5 separate regions of the Homo sapiens genome follow, and all the other regions are linked to region 3. The links come from fine-mapping of genetic effects on gene expression. A gene starts in region 3. Each other region holds a variant in brackets. All regions are shown on one strand. Distances are from middle to middle.

Region 1 (4,116 bases), 85 kb before region 3:
TGGTGAAACCATCTCTACTAAAAATACAAAAATTAGCCAGGCATGGTGGCCTGCACCTATAGTCCCAGCTACTTGGGAGGCTGAGGCAGGAGAATTGCTTGAACCCGGGAGGCGGAGGTTGCAGTGAGCTGAGCCTAGATTGCACCACAGCACTCCAGCCTGGCAACAGAGCGAGATTCCGTCTCAAAAAAAAAAAAAAAAAAAAAAATAGCTGGCCTGCATCCTCGAACATGTCAAGGTCATGTGGGTCAAGGAGAGACTGAGAAAGGAACTGTTTCAGGCCAAAAGAGCCTATATACAACTAAAGGAAGCTACATGCGTGCGATCTTGGGACATGATAGGGTCCCCATCACATTAGGGCCCCAGGTCTTTGTGTTTCTAAGGCTGGAGCTCGAGCTACCTCAGGCTCAGGATGGGGGACACTTCCCCTTAAGCAATGAGAAGGAGAGAGGCTGACTTGGAGAGAACAGGGAGTCAGGGAGCTTGGGCTGGATTGTTATTCCCCAAGAAGAGTTGCAACTGGACTTTCGCTTCAGTAATGTTTAAAAGAAAAATGCTAATCTAGATAGGGACTGCCATTCATTCATTCATTCATTCATTTATATTCCTCTTAACAACTTGTGACTTTGGGCATGTGGCTTAACTTCTCGGTTCCTCAGTTTCCTGTTTACAAAATAATGATGGTAATAATAGTACCTATCTCACAAGATGTGGAGAGGATTAATGGAGATGATAGGTGCAAAGTGCTTAGAATACTGCCTGGCATATAGTAAATGCTCAATAAATATCAATTATCATCACAAGGAATTTACTCCACAATTCATTTACTGAGAATGTGCAACATGCCAGAGTTAGTTGTCACTCTCCACCTGGAACTAGAACCACGGAAAACCTTAGATCCCATAAAACCAGAGCCTAGCAAAGATGACAGGATCTTAGTGTGTCACTACCCTGCCCATCAGTCTGGCTGCCAATGATGGTTTAAGATCCCACGCCCCCTACAATTTGAGCCCAAGGCCTCCTCCTGACAGCCATGTGAATGCCCCACGCCTCAGTTCCCCAGATGTTGTGACAGCCTCAAACACTCTCCAACGGCACTGATTTGAACCCTTGTAAACGCAGAAAAAAACAAGTCTTAGGCGGCAAAACCCCATTTGTGCAATGTGGACTCCCTTCCTCAAGTCCTGGGTGATGCTGAAGGGTCTGAATCTGCCTTTTCTTTCCCGCCTGTTGGGCCCTGGTAGAAAGTAGCAGCTGGGCCAGGGTTGGTGGCTCACGCCTGTAATCCCAGCACTTTGAGAGGCCAAGGCAGGTGGATCACTGGAGGTCAGGAGTTTGAGACCAGACTGGCCAACATGGCAAAACCCCGTCTCTACTAAAAATACAAAAATTAGCTGGGTGTGGAGGCACGCACCTGTAATCCCAGCTACTTGGGAGGCTGAGGCAGGAGAATGGGTTGAACCCAGGAGGCGGAGGTCGCATGAGCCGAGATCACGCCACTGCACTCCAGCCTGGGTGACAGAGCAAGACTCTGTCCCAAAAAAAGAAAAGAAACTTCAGGATATCCTTCAGCTATATTGTTTATATTTTTCCCCACTTTGTCTTTTCCCCCATTTGTATTTTTTTCTTTTGCCTGAATTATTTGAGAGGCAGCTGTAGACATGACATCACTTTATCCCCAAACCCTCCAGGCATGAGCCACCATGCCCAGCCCATGCACACTATAGATTAATGTTAAAAGCATTATGCTGAGGGAAAGAAGCCAGACACAAAAGACGACTTTCTGTGTGATTCCTCTGATATGAAGTTCAAGAACAGG[TAAG/T]ATGAATCTAGAAGGCACAAAAGTGGTTCCTTCTGTGGGGTAGAGGAGTCATTGCCTGCAGTGGGACATGAGGAAGACTTCTGGGATCTGCAAAATTCCTATGTTTTACCCCAGGTGGTAGTTCCATGAATTTATCCATATATAAGAATTCAGGCCAGGCATAGTGGCTCACACCTGTAACCCCAGCACTTTGGGAGGCCGAGGTGGGAGGATCACTTGAGCCCAGGAGTTCCAGACCAGCCTGGGCAATGTAGGGAGACACAGTCTCTACAAAAAATAAATAATATTAGCTAGATATGGTGGTATACACCTGTAGTCCCAGTTACTCAGGAGGCTGAGGTGGGAGGATCGCTTGAACCCAGGAAGTCAAGGCTGTAGTGAGCCATGGTTGTGGCACTGCACTCCAGCCTGAGTGACAGAGCAAGACCCTGTCTCAACAACAACAACAACAACAACAACAACAAAGAAGAGTTCATTGAGCTGTCTGTTTATGCGCTTTACTGTACATATGTTAAACGCCAGCATCAAAGTAGAAACCTAAAATCAATGAACTCATGCTGCACATTGAACATAGGAGAGTCAGGTGGGCAGGGAGTAGGGATTGGGGTGAAAGGGAATAAATGAATACAACTAGAGGGCAGCCTGTGTGGGCAATCATGATAACATGTTGCGAATTGAGGCATCAGATAACGTCACCCTGCACACCTGAGGTTCAAAAAGAAAAGCCAAAAAAGACCCAGGAGCTCAGAGGGGGAGTGTACCTTGTCTGAGGTCACACAGCTGGTGGGTGGCAGAGGCAGGATTTGAACCTGGGTCTGAGGAACCCCAGAGTGTGCTCCTTACCCAGTGCTCTGGCCTGGACTCTCCGGGCTGGACAGCTCTGCTGTGCTCCCAGAGGTCCCTAGGGTCTGGCAGGGGATGGCGAAATGACTGCTTGGCAAAGACCATTGCAGCTCAGAGCTCACAGCTCCAAGTCGGGAGGGGAGTCAGTGGAGCAAAGGGTGGCTCCCATCCCTGGAGCCTTCCCTCCCTGGCCTAGGGTGGCTCTGCCACCCTCCGTCCACCTCCCGCCGGCCTTTGCCTTCCTTCCTGGGCCAGCGTGTGGACTCTGGAGCCCTGCAGGGTTGGGTGTGAATCCCAGTTCTTCTTCTTTCTGGCTCTGCAACCTGGGGTGAGTGGCCTACTTTGTACCTCCGTTTCCACTTTCAGAGCCTGCCTATGACAGCATTTACTTAATAGCATTGGTGAGCAGAGTCGAGGAGTCAAAAGTGTGCAGAACTCAACACCATGCCGGCATGTGCTAATTGTCCAATAATGGCAGCTGCTATTGCTGTTGTTGATGTTATTGCTCCTTGGGAGAGGGGAGCCCCTGTTGCTCTAAGGCCTTACAAACACCAACATGTGAAAACAGCTGGCATGGAATGGAAAGTTCTAGAGAAAGGAGCTTTCTGACTGCCTGAAGGTTATCAGAAAACTTTCTATGCTGGTTTTTGTGAAAGCTCTTGGTAAGCTAGGGTAGAACCAGGGTGGCTTCATGGGAGTACCATCTAGGCAATTCCACAGAGCCCCTTGTTTGGAAGGGCCCCCACTTGGTTTACAGGTCTGCTGTTGTCATCTTGAAATTCTCTCTCTCTTCTTTTTTTTAGATAGAGTCTTGCTCTGTTGTCCAGGCTGGAGTGCAGTGGTGTGATCATGACTCACTGCAGCCTCAACCTCCCAAGCTCAAGTGATCCTCCCGCCTCAGCCTCCTGATTATCTGGGATTACATGCACATGCCACCATGCCCGGGTAATTTTTATTTATTTTTATTTTTATTTTTTGAGACAGAGTCTCACTCTGTTGCCCGGGCTGGAGTGCAGTGGCGCCATCTCTGCTCACTGCAACCTCTGCCTCCTGGGCTCAAGCGATTCTCTTGCCTCCTGAATAGCTGGGATTTCAGACACCCATCACCACGCCTGGCTAATTTTATACATATATATATATATATATATATATATATATATATATATATATATATTTTTTTTTTTTTTTTTTTTTTGTTTTTTTTTGAGACAGAGTCTCACTCTGTCACCAGGCTGGAGTGCAGTGGCAAGATCTCGGCTCACTGCAAACTCCACCTCCCAGGTTCTAAGTGATTCTCCTGCCTCAGCCTCCTGAGTAGCTGGGACTACAGGTGAGTGCCACCATGCCCAGCTAATTTTTGTATTTTTAGTAGAGACAGGGTTTCACCGTATTGGCCAGGATGGTCTTGATCTCTTGACCTTATGATCCACCCGCCTTGTCCTCCCAAAGTG
Region 2 (4,116 bases), 46 kb after region 3:
AGGAATAAAATATTGATAACACACAATTTGAATAAATCTTCAGAGAATTATGCTGAGTGAAAAAAACCAGTCCTCAAAGGTTACATAAACTATATGATTCCATTTATGTAACATTCTTGAAACCACACAATTATAGAAATGGAGAACAGATTAGTGGTTGCCATGGCTCGGGGGCAGGGTTGGGGGTGGGAGATGGGTTTGGTTATACAAGGGCAATGAGGGATCCTCGTGGTGATAGAAATGTCTGTATCTTGACTATATCACTGTCAATATCTTTATTGTGACTGTTAACATTGGGGGAAACTGGAAAGGGTATATGGACTCTCTCTGTTTATTTCTTACAACTGCATGTAAATCTATAATAATCTCAAAAGAATACATTTTAAAAAGAATATATTATACAATTTTCTATACCCAGACACTACTAAATATAATTATATCTTTGGTAACACAGACACACTGTTCTCAGATAACGGAAGTAGTGCGGTGATTATGTGTGTGACTTGACAATGGGATGGGCTGGGTTCAAATCTCAGCTACCAGTCCCTTCACCTCCTTGGGCCTCAGTTTCCACACCTGCAGGTGCTGAGCAATGAGAGGAACTGTCTCGTGGGGTTGCTGGGGGGACACGATGACGTGATTCATGAGACATGCAGAGCACAATGCTCACTTGCAGTGGCTGCCCAGTAAATGAAATTGCCACTTTTCCGGGCTGTAGAAAAGGCTACAGGTAGAGGCAGGCAGAGGATTGGACCCGAGAGCATCCTCTGAGAGCTCTAGATTGGGATCATGTCTCACCAGCCAGGGGGTTTGTTTTGACTTCTTTCTTGCAGGGAAGTGTCTGCTGAGTGGTCCATTCCACTCCCCTGAGTTTGGCCTGGTCGCTTCTTGTCTGCCCTCTGGACCCCGGTGGGTGCAAACTTTCATGGGTGTCTCTCCACCTGGAGCCTGTGGTTGGGACTGCTCAGGTGGGGACACAGCCTGGGGGGTGATCCTCTGTAAGGCAAAATGGAGCAGGAGTGGAACCCATGCCTACTGCATACCTATTGTGTGCCTTGTGACTTACGTGCTGCAGCTCACGGAATTCTCCCAACAACTTTGAGCAGTAGGTGCTATAATCACTCCTGCGTGATCCAGAGAAAACCGAGACTTGGTGAGGGGAATGGACTTGTCCAAGGTTGTGCAACTAGTAGGTGGCAGAGCTGAGATCTGAGCCCTGGTCTGTCTGATTTAAATCCAGAATCATTTTCACTGTTGATAATAACCTCACCACTTATTAAGTATCTACTAGAGTAATCAATATGCTAGCTCTTTCCATTGAGGTATGATCACCTTTCCATTTTAGAGAAGAGGAAATAGGGGTTAGGCAAGGTGCATTGCCAAGATGGACAACAGCTCTCAAAAAACAGCCAACCTTGCAGCCAACGGGCAGCTTTCTTGTGTGCCCCCAACCCCACCTGTAGCTCCAGCCCAGCTCAGCCAAGATCACTCAAGCTTTGGGACTTTTAAATGCTGAGTCAGCAAACAGCCCCTACCTTGAGATACTCTGCCTAGGCAGACTGTGGTTGTTTGCACTTCAGCTTCAGGCCTCCAGGGTCAGCTGAGATAGCAAGACCTTCCCCTGGGGGCTGGATGGGGTCATTGGGAGCCACTGAGAGACCCTTTCCCCACTTGGCCTGGCAGACAGAGTGGCAGTTGGAAGAGGCTCGAGGTGGCTGTGGTGGTAACAACTTCCTTTTGAGTAATAACATTTACTGAAAAGCAATTCTGCTTTTAGCACCAGAAGTTCACCA[T/C]CCTTGCAAGCAGGCGCCTAAGAATACCTTCATTCAACCACAGTTCAGAGATTCACAGACTTCCTTTTGCACTCCCTCCAGGAGAGTTTCACATTTGGTGTTGAGGGAAAACCAAATACCACAATTATTGGAGGGGGTGGGAGGGGTGTTGAGAGGGAGGTGATGCGAAGGAGGCCAGGTGGCATCAACCACAGCCCCCAAGGCCTCACAGGCAGCCTCTGGGCAGCGGCTCAGCCTCTCGCCCTCAGTTACTGGAAAGACAGCGGACGAGCTCATAATGAAACCGACAGGCTGACAATTTATCTTCCTTTTACAAGAAAAAGAAAGTGATTGTCCTTCAAACAAGCATGACTTTGGAAGCCAGGGACTTACCCTGGCCACTCTGCAAATTAGAGACAGAGCCAGGCTGCTCCAGAGGCCCCGAGCCCCTGCCTGTCACCCCCAATTAGCGCTGGAGTTCTTTAGGCTCGTTTTTTCTATTGCCCAAAATCCAGTCTACTGGGGCATAATGGGGACTTATGGAAAGAAAAAAATCCAATCTGCACTTGGGAGGGGATAGCCTTAAATGTTAGGCACTCACCGCAGGCAGCTGGGGGTGGCTGAGGGCAAGGGAGAAGGCATGGGTGGGGAAGGAGGGGATGTGCCAGGCAGAGCCAGGAGGCTCCAAAAAGCAGCTCTAAAAAGCTCTCCCCCTCCCAGCAATCCAGCCTCCTGACTCACGCCAGACACAGAGGCAGCTGATGGGATGGGAAGAGGCTGGCTTTGGGAGCCACAGGGATGTGGGGGCAAACTCCAGCTCTGCCACTTGCTGGCTGTGTGACCTTGGGTGGGTAACTTCACCTCTCTGAGACTCAGTTTCCTCACCTTTAAGATGAGGATGAGTATAGGAGGTCAGGACATGACCTTCCTGTGCTCAAAACCCTCCCACGGCTCCCACCTCACTTGGCAGAAAGTCAAAGATCTCTGTGGCCTACCAGGCCCTACAAGATCTTTCCCATGCTTCCCTTATAACCTCATCTCTCTCTCTCTGTCTCTTTTTTTTTTTTTTTTTTTAAGACAGGGTCTCACTTTGTCACCCAGGCTGGAGTGCAGTGGTGCCAACACATCTCACTACAGCCTCAACCTCCTGGGCTCAAGTCATCCTCTCACCTCAGCCTCCCAGATAGGTAGGACTACAGACACATGCCTCCACGGCCAGCTAATTTTTGTATTTTTTGTAGTAGAGATGGGGTTTTGCCATGTTGCCCAGGCTGGTCTCGAACTCCTGAGCTCAAGTGATCTGCCCACCTTGGCCTTCCAAAGTGCTTGGGATTACAGGTGTGAGTCACCGCGCCTGGCCCATCTCCTCTTACTCACTCTCTCTGGTTCCCTCTACCCCTGCCACACTGGGCTCCTCTTTGTTCCTCCAACATGCTAAGCACACGCCTACCTCGGGGCTTTTGCACACACTGTTTCCGCTGCCTTCAGCATCCTTCCTCCAGATAGCCACAGGGCTTCTTCCCTCTCCTGATCTGGGTGTCTGCTTAAATGACCCCGGGGGTCCTGCTCTGACCCCCGGCCCTTCCAAATTGCTCCCCTGGCCTTACCTCTTCACCCTGCGTGAATGTTTTCCCATAACACTGACCACTACTTGACACAATAATTTAGGGGGTTCATAACTCCCCATTGGCCAGACTGTAAGCTCCCAGCAGGCAGAGGCCAGTTCTCCACTGTCCTCCATTAAATCTCAGAGCCTGGCACATAGGGGGCACTCATCCAGCATTGAATGAACAGATGCAGGGTTTTGTGGTGAGAAGGGAAGAAGGACGTGTGTGGCGGGTTCAGCACCAGCCCAGGGTGCGTGCTCACTGTCACTTCTTCTCTCCTCTGCCCAGCACCAGCCCCATGTCATGTGCTTGTTGAATTCCTACAATGGAAGGATGCATTTTACAGATGCAGGAATGAGACCACAGAGCCCAAGCGACTGTCTCAGCCCGCAGCGGGGCAAGGCTTTGAATTCTGGTCTGCGGGTCTCTTGGCCTCCAGGACAATGGTGACAGTGTCCAGTCTGACTTGGGGTCTGGGTGAGAGAAATGGCTGGTGGGGCCATCAGACTCTTGAGAAGAGGCCCTGGCTTTGAGGATCTCCAGCCGACATCTGGGCTTAGGACTGGGGTTCACGCCCCGTCCTCCTGTCCCACAGTCCCACATTCTGCCCCAAAGCAGAATGCAAGCCCCATCAAGGAGGCTCAGGGTTTCCAGAGAGGGGCTTCCTCAACTTTCTGTTGCTGGAAAGTTCTGTCCCAGAAAGGGCAGACGCTTGAGGAGCTCCTGGATCCGGCAGA
Region 3 (4,116 bases):
AGGCTGGTCTCCAACTCCTGACTGCAAGTGATCCACCTGCCTCGGCCTCCCAAAGTGCTGGGATTACAGTAGTGAGCCACCACACCTGGCCAGCAGATTTCTTTAAGTATTTTAGAGGCAATATTTTTTCCCCAAAATCTCCCTTGTGCAAATTTTCTACCTCACAGCTGCCAAAATTTGAGGTGGTGGACAAAAATAGTTGATATATAATGATAGAAAGACGTAAGTGAGGTATATATATAGAGAGAGTCTAGAAAGAGTTCGCTTTCAAAGGGGAGGATCAGGGCAGTCTCCCTGGAGGAGGAGGTTTTGAATACGTGCGTTGAAGGGTGGGTGAAATCCAGACCAGGCAGGTGGGTTAGGGAAAGTGAGGGCATGCCGGGTGAAGGGCCCTGTGTGTGCACAAGGGTGAGGTGGGAATGATGAGTGTGAGAGTTTGTACCAAGGGGGCTGGGGCTGGGGTGCCAAGAACCAAAGAGCCATGATAAGGCCTGTCTGGGGCTCAGCCAAACTGGGGAGTAGTACACGAGAAGAGGAATGGGGAGCCCTAGAGGGTTTTAAGTAGGGGAGGAACGTGGAGTCCATAGCAAGGCAGAGTGGCTGGTGGGGAGGTGGGGAGGATGCCATGGCAACCATTCACGCCAAGCCTCAGCCCCGACCCTCAAGGAGGCAGGCAAGGCTGAGCTTCCCTTTCCAGATTGTTTGTGGGTGCAAAAGGGCAGCAAAGAATGTGGGTGCCTTGTCCTTCTGCCCATGGTCTAGTGTCCTTCCCCTCACCCCAGTCCCAGTGGAGCCATCATAGGTGAAATATAAGAACAAGTCACCTGCGTTCAGTGGCTGCAGAATACCTGGCCTCGCACAGAAGGCTGCGGGGATTTCTGCTCATTCATTCTTCCCACCTGCCGCATGAGGGAGGTGCTATGTCCATTTTACAGAGGACACTGAGTCCCAGAGAGGCTAAGCGGCATGCCCGAGGTTACACAGCCAAGAAGGGGCACAGCAAGATTCAACCCAAAAGTCTGCACTCCAGCCACTGCCCTATCATGACACTCACGAGCTCCCACCAAGTCTGGCTCCAGTGTTTCCAGTACCATAATCATCCCCATTTACCAGATGGGTAAACTGAGGCTCTGAGAGGTGGAGTCACTTGCCTGAGGCCATACAGCAGGAAGGGTAAAAGTAAAGATTTGAATCCCTGGGTCTAGTCGACTCTGGAGCCTGCTGTTCTCCCACCATACACCTCAGCTGCTCGCCCTCCTGGGCATCTGTTTCCTCATCTGATGAACAGGGGTGACGGCGATGCCTCCCTGGCAAGGTCCGCAGAGGATCCCGGGTGGTGTATGTCAATCACCCAGCTCAGTGCCTGGCACTCAGTGGATGCTTTAAACGTGATGCCTGTGTTTATTCGTATAAAGGTGGCTGAATATTAAATGGGTGGATTTATGGAAGGCACTTATGGTAATGCCCTGTACATAATAGATGCTCAAGAAACACTAGAAGCAGTTACTATGATTATAGGATCGACCACAGGGGACAGCCCAGTAACCCCTCAAAGTTGCTTCCTTCCCAAGTTGCCTTCCATTTATTTCTCCCTTCATCCAACACACTGGCCTTAGGGTCCAGGTTAGGATTTGGGGGCTTGGGGGGCTTAGGTTACAATTTGAGGTGATTTGTCCCCCCCTGCCCATCAGTCAGAGTGATGCTGAGAGCACTGGATGATAAGACCAGAATTCTAGGTCCGCGCCCCGGACCTGCTGTGTGATCTCTGGCAACTGCCTTGCCCTCTCTGGGCCTTGGTTTCTCCTTTCATCTGCAGAGCCTGGGCCAGGCTGCCCTGGGAGGTGCCAGCCCCGAATGGGGCCGGGGGCAGTTCCTGTGTCCCCTTGGCCACCAGCCTCCATCTCCTGCCTCTTGAGCTGCAGGCCCGCCCGGCTCAGCTGTGACGACGAACCAGCCAATCTGTTTACTGAACTGGCTGACCCCTTCCGGGAACTCGGCCCAAGCTTCCCAGAACTCGGGTATTAATGACCCGGAGCCACATGACGGAGCATGACACAGCACTTTTGGGCACAAGGCAGGGCCCAGAGGGGTGCGTGGGGGCCGCAGCCCAGCCCCCAAGCCCCGCCAGCGGGTGAGTCACCTGGGCCCCCTGCAGCTTCCTGATCCCGGCCACTCAGCTGTCCTCCCCACCCCCAGGATATCCCCAGTTGTCAGGGCTGCCCTGGGACCCCTCGACCTTTGCACTAGGGACTTAGCAGCCGTCTTGGGTGATCAGGGCTGCCTTCTGGGATTACAGATGGGGACAGTGAGGCCTGCAGGACTGGAGTGAATGAACAGTGAGCTCTGAGTAAACGTCCACTGTGCGGGAGGCACTGTGCAAATACGTCACGTTAGTCTCGCAGCGATGCAACACAGTGGCGTAGTTTAATCCCCATATGATAGATGGGGAAACTGAGGCTCAGAGCGGGAATGAATTCTCCCAAGGGCATGCAACAAGAGCACTCTGTTTGACTGGAAATAATTTCCTTTCGTCTCCTCAGCAGCCGACAAGGGAGGTGCCATGTGGACTGTTTCACAGCTGGAGAAACTGAGGCACAGAGGGGCTGAGTCACCTGCCTAACGCACTGAGCAGTCTGGCTCCAGGACCTGTGCTCTGAACCAGCACCTGGCACATAGCTGGCACCGACATGGTCTCCGTGCACTGCCATGGATGAGAGCAATGCTGGCTGCGGTGTCGGGCGGAGCTGGGTTCCAATGCTGACTTCACCTTTCTCAGGCTGCACAGCCTGGAGCACGTGGCTGCACCCTACCGTGCGTCAGTTTCCTCACCTGTGAAGGGTGATCGTGGTGGTCCTGATCTTGCAGAACTGCAGTGAGGGCTGTGAGTGTGGGGTGTCTCAACTGCACCTGGACACGCAGAAGGCACTCTGTGAACACTGACTTTCATTGGCCCAGGCCTCTGAATCCATGACAGTTCAATCTCTGAACCCCACAGCTTCCTCCTTCACCCTTTGCCGCCCCAGGGCAAGGTGAGGGCGGTGGTTTTTATGGGCCTGGGAACCAGACAGGCTCGGGCTCAGAGGGGGCGCCTGCTGCTGGCGGGAGTGGGGCCTCCTGGTTCCCACTCCCTGATTTTGGGCTGGGGGCCGGTGGTGGGCAGGGGTGGGGCAGCACTTTGATGTTCTTCCCTTCATTCCACCACCACTGCTTGAGCACCTACTGTATGCCAGGCTCCAGGGGACCCAGCAGTGAACAAGGTCTCTGCCCTCACTATGGTGGAGGAGAGGATGGAGGAGATAAACATCGGTGAGCAAATGCTTGAAGAGGCGAGAGGATTTCACCAGAGAGAAGGGCCGTGATGGGAATCAGCAGGGGTGTTTGGGAGCTGAGTGGGTCAGAGAGGGCTTTTCTGAGGCGGTGATGTGGAGCAGATGCCTGAAGGAGAAGAAGGACCAGACCTGGGGAAGAGATTTCCAGCAGAGGGAAACTCACCACAGCACGTGCAAAGGCCCTGAGGGTGGGAATGGGTTTGGGAAGTTCCAGGAAAGGCAAGGAGGCTGAAGGGGTGTGAGGAGGGGACAGCAGCAGGACATGGTGCTGGAGGGCCAGCAGGGGTTGGACCATGCAGGGCTTGGTGGGCTGAGTGAGCAGCCGCGGCTGGGACTTGGGCAGGAGCCTATGTGAGAGATGGCAAGACTGCCTGAGATCGCATTCAGAACTTCTACCCATCTCACAGATGAGCTCAGTGAGGCCCGAGCCAGCTTCCCCTAGAAGGTCAGTGGCTGGACAGGCATGAGAATCGAGGGAGTTCAACTCCCCCGGAGAAGCCAGAAGCCAGAACACAGGCCGTGGAGGAGAGGGTCCCACATTCATCCCTGCAGCCCCGAGAGCTGTGGGCTGTGGGGCTGCCTGGATGGCTTCCTGGCGGAGGAGGTGACCTCCAAGCTGTGGCTGGGGCAGAAGGGCTGGGAGAGCGTTCCCAGTAGGGGAAGCAGCACACAGACAGGCCCAGAGGTGGCGGTGAGGTGCAGGCGTTGTCTGGGAAATTCATCACTGCTTGGGAGTCAGGAAAGTGACCGGGTGAGGAAGTGTTATTGTCAGGGTCTCCCTTTCAGA
Region 4 (4,116 bases), 72 kb before region 3:
ATTGCTTGAACCCAGGAGGCAGAGGTTGCAGTGAGCCGAGATTGTGCCACTGCACTCCAGCCTGGGGGACAGAGCGAGAACTTATCTAAACAAACAAACAAACAAAAAAACATGAGCTGGGTCACGCTCCTCCCCTGCTCCACAGCCTCCAGGGCTCCTACTGCCTTCAGAATAAAGATTGGCCTCCTTATCCAGACCCACAGGTGCTGCACAGTGGCGGCCCCCTCCCCTGATCTCTGGCCACTCTCACTGTCACTTGCCCTGCTAGAGCCACCTTGGTTTTCTTTCCATTGCACCCAGCTCCCACCTGCCACAGGGCCTTGGCACACTTTGCTTTCTCTACTGGAACACTTTCGTTTCTCCTCTTCACCTAGTTAATGCCAGATCTCAGATCAGGTGGACCTCTGGTAGCAGGTGCTGTGGGGATTCCCCAGAGCCTCTTTGGTGGGATCTGCATGCATCTTCCTGCTGCCACACAGTGTTGGCTGCTGTGGGCTCCCAGCTGGGGCCCCTTAAAGCTGGAGTCCTGCCTCGCTGAGCAGGAGCTGCCTCCCATCCCCCAAACAGAGGTGGACACAGCCAGTGACCAATGAGACCAGGACTCAGGCCTCTTACTTTGAGGTGGGAGGAGTGTGGTGGTGCAATTCACGTTCCAGAGCTCCCCGGGGGATCAGGCCAAGTGAGACTCAGCGGAGGCCATATCCTGGCTTAGCTCCCACCTTGCCCTGTCCTGCTTCTCGCACCCTTCTCCCAAAAGCATGTCCTCAGTGAATCACGTGCATGCCAGTCCCCAAGTCAGGCTCCTCTTCTGGGCAACCTGACCTAAGATGCCTTCCCTGCCCTCCCTGTCCCCCTTTCTGGTCTCTTCTCCATGGATCTCTCCTTGCAGCCCTGACTATGGCTGTGTTTTTACACTTGCTTGGATGATTATTTGATTGAAATCTGTCCCCCACCCCAGAATGTAAGGCAGGGATCATGTTCCTTCTGTGTTCCCAGCGCCCATCGTGGGCTTGGCACATAGTAGGTGCTCAATCCATATTTGTTGAATGACTGAATGAATCATAGCTGGGTGAGTCAGAGCTGGGCACTATCAAGGCCCCAGTTTCTTCCTATCTCATGGTTCTGCCGTCTCCACTCAGCCCAGCTCCTCATGGTGCCACGATGGCTGCCAAAGCTCCTGCCATCTCTTCCTCATACAGCCAAGCAGGAAAGGCCCTCACATGTCCTGTTAAGAATGAAGAAACCATTCCCAGAAGCCCCTTGGCAGACTTCCCCATCTCACTGGCCACAGATGCATTCCATGTCCAGCCTCTGCCAATTGCTGCAAGTGGGGAAGGGGACCTAATCAGCATCTGTGCCTCGAATGTCGTGGGTGGAGTCCACCCACACCCACTGAGCGGGGATCTGGCTGCCTACGAGCGCAGACCCCTGAACTTGGGTCATTTTGACTATTCCTAGGGCTGTGGGTCCCCCACCTGTCCTTCCTCCCTGGGGAGCCCTTGGGTGGTGGAGGTGAGAAGGGGGCGGTGCTGGGTGAGGGTTTCAAGCAAATGAGGCGGCCAGACACCTTCACCTCAGTAAACATTTACAGAGCCAGGAATGCAGAGGAGGTGGTGAGCCCAGCAGATGAGTGTGTGGGGAAGACACCACCTAGGCCAGAGGTACAGATAGTGAGACAGGGAGACATGGGGGTGAGATGGAGAGACACAGAGAGACACCCTGAAAGAACTGATGTGAGAGACACAGAGGGAAAGAGAGAGGCTGAGAAATAAAGAGGGGAGAGACCCAGAGACAGAGGCTTTGCCGGGCAAGCTTTTGCATCAGGCCTGGAGCAGGCAGAGGCCCTCTTCCAGTGGGCGTGGTGACCGCACCTCGTTCTCTTTGGCTGAAAGTCCCAGGCAAGCCCCTTTTCCAGACTGGGCCTTGGATCCTCCTGTGTCAAATGGAGCTGTGTCCACACACTGGGCCTAACATGGACCTGTGGCCTCCTGTGACCCAGAAACAGCCTTGTGTGGTGGAAGGGAATTGTCACCCCCAGTGGAAGGGGGAGGCAGTGCCCAGGGGCATGGCGAGAGGGTGGAAGGGGGATCTGGACCACGGAGTGCATGTTTCTAAAGCCTGTGTCCTGTCTGTGCCCCACAGGGCCAGTGTGGGGCCAGGAGGGGTGAGGGTGGGGCATGGGGGTACCCTTAGGGGTGGTGCTGGCCGCCAGCTCTGTGTGCCAGTGACGAGTGTTCTGGTCATAAGAATGGCTGCTGGGTTTGAATGCTCCCCAGGTGCCAGGCACCAACCCCAC[C/G]AGGGTGGTGCTGCTTAATTTCTATTTAGTTTGGACTTCCCATTTACAAACGAGGAAACTACATCTCAGCGTGGCAGCGACTTCCTAACAACGGGGTGTAGGCTTTGGGGTCGGAAAGGTCTGGGTCCGAGTCCCCGCTCCATCCCTGACAGGCTGGGGGACCTAGGCAGTCATTTCCTCCTCCTAAGCATCAGTTTCCCCATTTGTAAAGTGGGGAAATAAGTTTAAGGGTGACATGGGGATCGGATGAGGTGCTGCCAGAGGGTTCTTAGCACAGGGCCGGGTACACAGGAAGCACTGGATGAACGTTAACCGGGCCATTGGATACAAGCTTTTAAGTAATTTAAAATAATTCCTTTAATGGCTCTCCTTATTTTTTTTATTTTTTTTTTAAGGGAAAGAGCTGAGGTCCAGGGAGGGGAAGGGACTTGCCCAAAGTCATTGGCCAGGTGGAGGGTCTGAGGTTTGAACCCTGTGGGCCCTGAGGCCCTCTATACCACCCACGATGGCTCAGGCCTGGATGGCCTGTTTGCGACTCAATCCTCATGGGTTGAGAAGATGCCCATAGCCTGGCCTGATAGCCCTCTGGCCTGACATCAGCTACAACCACCAGTTGGGGCAGTTGCAAAATCCCTCACCCTTTGCCTGTCGATAAAGGGTGCCCATTGCAAAACTCAGCGGAGAAATTATTAAGGGTTGTGTCATCCTGTGGCCAGGCCCTGGGTGCCTCTTTCCTGCCCGGAAGCCTGGGTAGGGCCGACTGCTCACTCTCTCCCTCCATGGCCCTGACCCGAGAGAGAATGGGGTGGGGGTCAGCAGGGAGCTTGCAGGGAATGCGGACGACAGACCCCAGCACTGGGGCCGTCATAGTCCCTGATTCTTAGGAAATGGCAGCTCCATCCTTCTGGGTGCTCAGGCCCAAACCTCGGGTTGTCCCTTCATTTCCTCTCTTGCCCTGCATTCGATAACTGGCCAGGAAATCCTGTCAGCGCCACCTTTAAAACATCCAGAACCTGCGTAGGTTTTCCCCTCCGCTTCCACAGCTGAATTCAAGGCCACCATTCTCTCTCCTGCAGTAGCCTCCTTGCTGCTTTCACTGCTGTCATCGTCACGCCCCACTTCCCCCGTGCAGCCAAAGGGATGCTGTTAGAACCCCACTCAGATCCCATCTTTCCTCTGTTTAGAACCTTCCTTGGCTCCAGCTGCAGAGCAAAACCTGAGGTCTTTCCCAGGATCACAGGGCCCTGTCTGATCTGGCCCCCATGGCCTTTCTGACCTCATCCTCCCTCCTTTCTTACTTGCTCACTCACTCCAGCCACACCGGGCCCCTTGCTATTCCTCCAACACACTGGGCATGACCTAACTAGGGCCTTTGCACTTGCTGTTCCTGCTGCCTGGAATGCAGTTCCTTCAGCTCTTTCCCCCAGCTGGATGTGCCACTTTATTCAGATCTCATCGCAATGTCACCTCCTCAGGGAAGCCTTCCCCGGCTACCTGCTGAACTGTCACCTCCACCATCACTCCAGCCCTTTCATCTTTCTTCCCTACTTGCCATCATGTTATACATCTGTTATTTGTTTGGTCAATGCCTGTCTATCTCTTTAGTATGTCACCTTCCACACTGCAGGGACTGCTGTCTGTGGTGATCACGATGCTTTCTGAGCACTCAGCACAGGGCCCCGCACACAGTAGGGGCTCCACAGAGATTTGTTCAATCAGTGAATGGGCGCGCAGGAGGGGTGGCTGTTGGCCCAGATGATGCTTCAGCAAACATCACAAGTGTCCTTTCTCTGGCTGATGGCTCGAGGCTGGTGCCCAGA
Region 5 (4,116 bases), 98 kb before region 3:
CGGAGCCTCTGGCTGGTCCCGAGTGTCAGGCTTGGGTTTGGAAGGGCTGGGAGGTCTGTGACCCCTGCCCTGTGTTTGGGGACTAGGTAGGCAGGCCTGTGACTGTAGGAGGAGGGGGTTCAGGTCTTGGTCCTGCTGAGCCCGAGTCAGGGCAGATGCTTTTGGTCAGTGTAGTGGGGTGGGTTGTTTAAAACACAGTTTGTGTATACATGTGTATTTTAAAGAGGGGAGCCTGGGTGTGTGGGCGAGTCTGTGTTTGTGTGTCCCTGGCCAGCAGGAGGGGAGAGGCCAGGCCAGGTGGAGAGAGGTGGGGGAGGGGTTCCCACACTTTGATTACCTTTCCTGAGGATGGGAGGCTCATCACTTGCTCTCTTTGCCCAGACTTGGACACTGAGCCCACCTCACCTGCCTGCTCAAGGTGGCTGAGCCCAGGCACAAACGTGGGGCTGCTAGCCCTGATTCCCTGGGACAGGCTCCTCTTCCCTGCCCACTGATCCCTTTGCCCCTTCCGGCTTCTCACCGCACCCCCTACTCCCATCCAGCCCTGGATGGCATTCCTGAGAGTTGAGGATGTAGATGGATGTGAGTGGATACATGTACAGCGTCCCACAGTGCCTGGCACGCAAGAAGTGTTATATAAGCGCTTGCTCTTGTTATTATTTTTTGCTGGGAAGCTGCTGGCATTTGGCACCCCAGTCTCCAGTGCAGCGCCAGTGTGGCCAGTACTTGCCAGGGGCCGGCATCTGGTAAACACTGGACCTGCCCCATCCCATTTAGACCTCACAATAACCTTTGGGAAGGTGGGGATTGTTATGACGCCTGTTTTTAGAGGTGGGGAGCAGCTTTGGGCTGTCCGATCCCTATGGGCAAGACACTGGTTGGGGGTTGCCCTGCCCTGAGGAATTCAGGGGCAGCAGGCATCGTAGCCTGGTTTGCCAAGGACCTGGGGCGGTCTGGGATCTCAGGAGCAGTTGCTGATACCGTGGTTCGCGAATGGGAAATGCTTTGCCCCTCCTTTTCCTTTTGGGGGCCTGGTTGTGCTTTCCCTGTGGGAGCCTGGGATGTGGGGAACAGACAGCGACACTCATCCCCCACCGCCACAAAGCGGAGGATTCCTATAAGCTCCACCTCCCTAATGCCAGTGTCTCCTGATGGTGGCTCGAGGGCTATGCAGATTGCTGGACACAGATAACCTCACTTCAACCTGGGACCTGCAGCGTGGCCCTGACCACGTCCCCTCCCAGCCCTGGGCAACTGGACAACTGGCCGGGCATGCCTTCAAAGCCTCGAAGTCAGTTCAGTCCCAAGCCCCACTGGTCTCGATGGTTTCTGTCAGTAGCAGCGACAGCAATGTGGGCTTGACCTCAAGGATTTACTTGCTGAAGGCAGAGGCTGAGGGGCTGGACCTAGGGAAGGAGGGAGGTGGAGAGGGTCGAAATTGAGGAACAAATCTCAAATCCCTGCTCCCTCCTTTGTCACCAAGAGTTGGCTGGTGGCCACTGCTCACCCAAATGAGGTGAGAGGGAAGCAGCCTGGCCAGACGGTGCCCCTCTTCCGCCCCCGTCTGCCCCACAGCTTCGCTTCTGTTTCCCCAGTGCTGTCCTGGAACCAGCGTTGAGTCAGTTCTTCACACACTCACATCTTGCTCTCATCCACAGTACCCCACAGAAGGTGCTAGACCCATTTCTAAAAGCACACATTGAGGTCCACAGAAGTGAGGTTTGTGCTCAAGGTGGGCTAGGTGGAGCAGGTTACAAAACCATCCGACTCCCAAGTCTATGGGGAAAGTTTGGGGCTGGGAGCCTGGTTTGTAATCCCAGTTCCTGTTTAAAATCCCAGGCTCTTCTTGGAGGGCTCCTTGCCTGACCTCAAGTTCAGGCACTCCAAGCCCCAGAACTGCAAACATCAGTTTCACAGTTTGGAAGCAACAGAAAGTGAATTTGAACCTGAACCCCTTGGGCTGCCTCTAAGGAGGGCTGGGAGAAGCAGTTCACAGGTTGAGGGCTTTGACGGTGGCTTGGTATGGGAGCACTGTGGACGGAGCTGTGCCCAAAGGACTTGGGGAGATGTCATAGTTAGGGCAACACCAACCCCACAGTTCACCAAGCTGCAAGGGTGAAGGGCTCGCAGGGAGGAACCAGTCCATTCCGACATCCAGAAACAGGAGGGGGTGGGATGGGGTGAGGCGAGCCCAGGAGGCCAGGGACGAGCCTTGAGGAATCATGATAATAGCAGGTGTGAGACAAGGGCTTAGATGTGCAAAGCACCACTCCAAGCCCTTGGCACAGAGGGAGGTGCTGGGTCCTTAGATATGTGGGAGAAAGCCGGTCATGTTAACCACAGACCCATTTAGTGTGTTTGACCACTGAGGCTAGCTGGGAGGTGGGAGCCTGGAACCCCAACTAATGTTTGCTCAGGACAAGAGAGTTCACAAAACAAGACACATTCACACCTCATAATCTTATGCAATTGTCCCACGGCCTGGTGATTTTAGCAAGGAGATAAGTGGATGTCAGAAATGAACGCTCGAGACACTGCTGGGT[G/C]CCGGTTCCACACTGACACTGTGCTCCTTGGTTTAATCAACTCATTAGCCTTTTGGAGGCTGCAGCTTTTGTTACTAGCATTTTGCTGCTGTGCAAACCAGCTTAGAGAGGTGAACTGACCTGTCTTAAGTTTGCACAGCTAAGAATGGCAGAAGCTGGAGTGGGAGTGAGAAGGGGAACTGCTCCTTCTGAACACCTGAAGAATATTTCCCTGCAGGCTGGGCGAGGTGGCTCACGCCTGTAATTCCAACATTTTGGGAGGCTGAGGACGGCAGATCATTTGAGGTCAGGAGTTTGAGACCAACCCCGGGCAAAATGGTCTCTACTAAAAAAATACAAAAATTAGCCTAGTGTGGCGGTGGGTGCCTGTAGTCCCAGCTACTCAGGAGGCTGAGACATGAGTATCACTTGAATCACAGAGGCGGAGGTTGCAGTGAGCCAAGGTCGCACCACTGCACTCCAACCTGGGCGACAGAGCGAGCGTGCCTCTGTCTCAAAAAAAAAAAAAAAGAATATTCCCCTGCCTTCCAAGTTTTGTCCAGACCTCTCTGAGACTGTTTTCTCCCAGTTTCTCAGTCGTTTTTTTGCCCAGTTATATTTTTCATTTATTTGACAAACATTTATTGAGCACCCGCTGTGTGCTAGGCCCCTTACTGGGTGTTGGGGACATGTGGTGGCCAAGATGGAGGTGATAATTTTCAGGGAGACACAGATGCTAAGTATCCAGTGACTGGAACAAGATAATGGCAGATGGAGTCAAGGGCTCTGCAGGAAGGAAAGTGGGGCAGAGGTGAGTGGGAGCGGTCCTGCGAGGCCCCTCCTAGGAAGTGGCATCTGAGCAGAGACCCCTGAGCCCAGGGAGTCAGGAGTATGGTGGGCTGCAGTTTACTGGATGCTCACTTTGCACCTGCTGGTGTCCTGCATGCCTTATTCTTAAAATCCCAATGATGTAGGTGCTTTTTTTTTTTTTTTTTTTTTTAAAGGAGTCTCACTCTGTCACCCAGGCTGTAGTGCAGTGGCATGATCCCGGCTCACTGCAAGATCCGCCTCCTGGATTCAAGCACTTCTCCTGCTTCAGCTTCCCAAGTAGCTGGCATTACAGGCTTGCTCCACCATGCCCGGCTAATTTTTGTGTTTTTCATAAAGATGGGGTTTCACCATGTTGGCCAGGCTGGTCTCGAACTCCTGACCTCAAGTAATCTGCCCATCTCAGTCTCCCAAAATGCTGGGATTACAGGCCTGAGCCACTGCACCCGGCCATGGGTGCTACTTATTACTCCCCCTCCCCAGATGGGGAAAATGAGGCACAGAAAGGTGAAGTCACCGGTCCAAGAGCTGGTGAGTGGCTGATGTGAGGTTTGAATTCTCACCTTGCATTTGAACCTGAGAGGCCTTCTCTGCCTGTTTTCCCCCATGGCCCTGAGCCTCTCCTTTGCTGTTTTCCTGTCCTGCCCTTCCACCCCCTCCTGAGTTCTTTCTCAGCTTGGCCAATCTCCTGCGTGGCCTGTGATGGCGTCCCAGCAGTCCCCGCTCCCTGTGGGATTTTTGATGGTGCATTGGCCGGGGCAGGGTA

The links. PIP is the estimated chance that this variant, and not a neighbour inherited with it, causes the effect.
Region 1: its variant is fine-mapped to the expression of LINC01270 in whole blood (TOPMed, PIP above 0.99).
Region 2: its variant is fine-mapped to the expression of LINC01270 in whole blood (INTERVAL, PIP above 0.99).
Region 4: its variant is fine-mapped to the expression of LINC01270 in whole blood (TOPMed, PIP 0.93).
Region 5: its variant is fine-mapped to the expression of LINC01270 in whole blood (INTERVAL, PIP 0.94).

The regions. Positions count from the first base shown.
Region 1 is chr20:50,205,502-50,209,617 of GRCh38, forward strand. No RefSeq gene overlaps it. Among named protein-coding and RNA genes, the nearest start is that of CEBPB-AS1, 15 kb to the left of the region's middle. The variant TAAG/T (reference allele first, on the strand shown) is at 1,820.
Region 2 is chr20:50,337,094-50,341,209 of GRCh38, forward strand. No RefSeq gene overlaps it. Among named protein-coding and RNA genes, the nearest start is that of LINC01271, 18 kb to the left of the region's middle. RefSeq lists an enhancer at 2,021-2,220. The variant T/C (reference allele first, on the strand shown) is at 1,794.
Region 3 is chr20:50,290,700-50,294,815 of GRCh38, forward strand. LINC01270 (long intergenic non-protein coding RNA 1270) reads left to right here and starts at 2,021. Exons shown (of 5, transcript NR_034124.1): 1 at 2,021-2,131. RefSeq lists enhancers at 1,574-2,310, 3,424-3,924.
Region 4 is chr20:50,218,715-50,222,830 of GRCh38, forward strand. No RefSeq gene overlaps it. Among named protein-coding and RNA genes, the nearest start is that of CEBPB-AS1, 29 kb to the left of the region's middle. The variant C/G (reference allele first, on the strand shown) is at 2,297.
Region 5 is chr20:50,193,002-50,197,117 of GRCh38, forward strand. No RefSeq gene overlaps it. Among named protein-coding and RNA genes, the nearest start is that of CEBPB-AS1, 3.0 kb to the left of the region's middle. RefSeq lists an enhancer at 536-1,097. The variant G/C (reference allele first, on the strand shown) is at 2,544.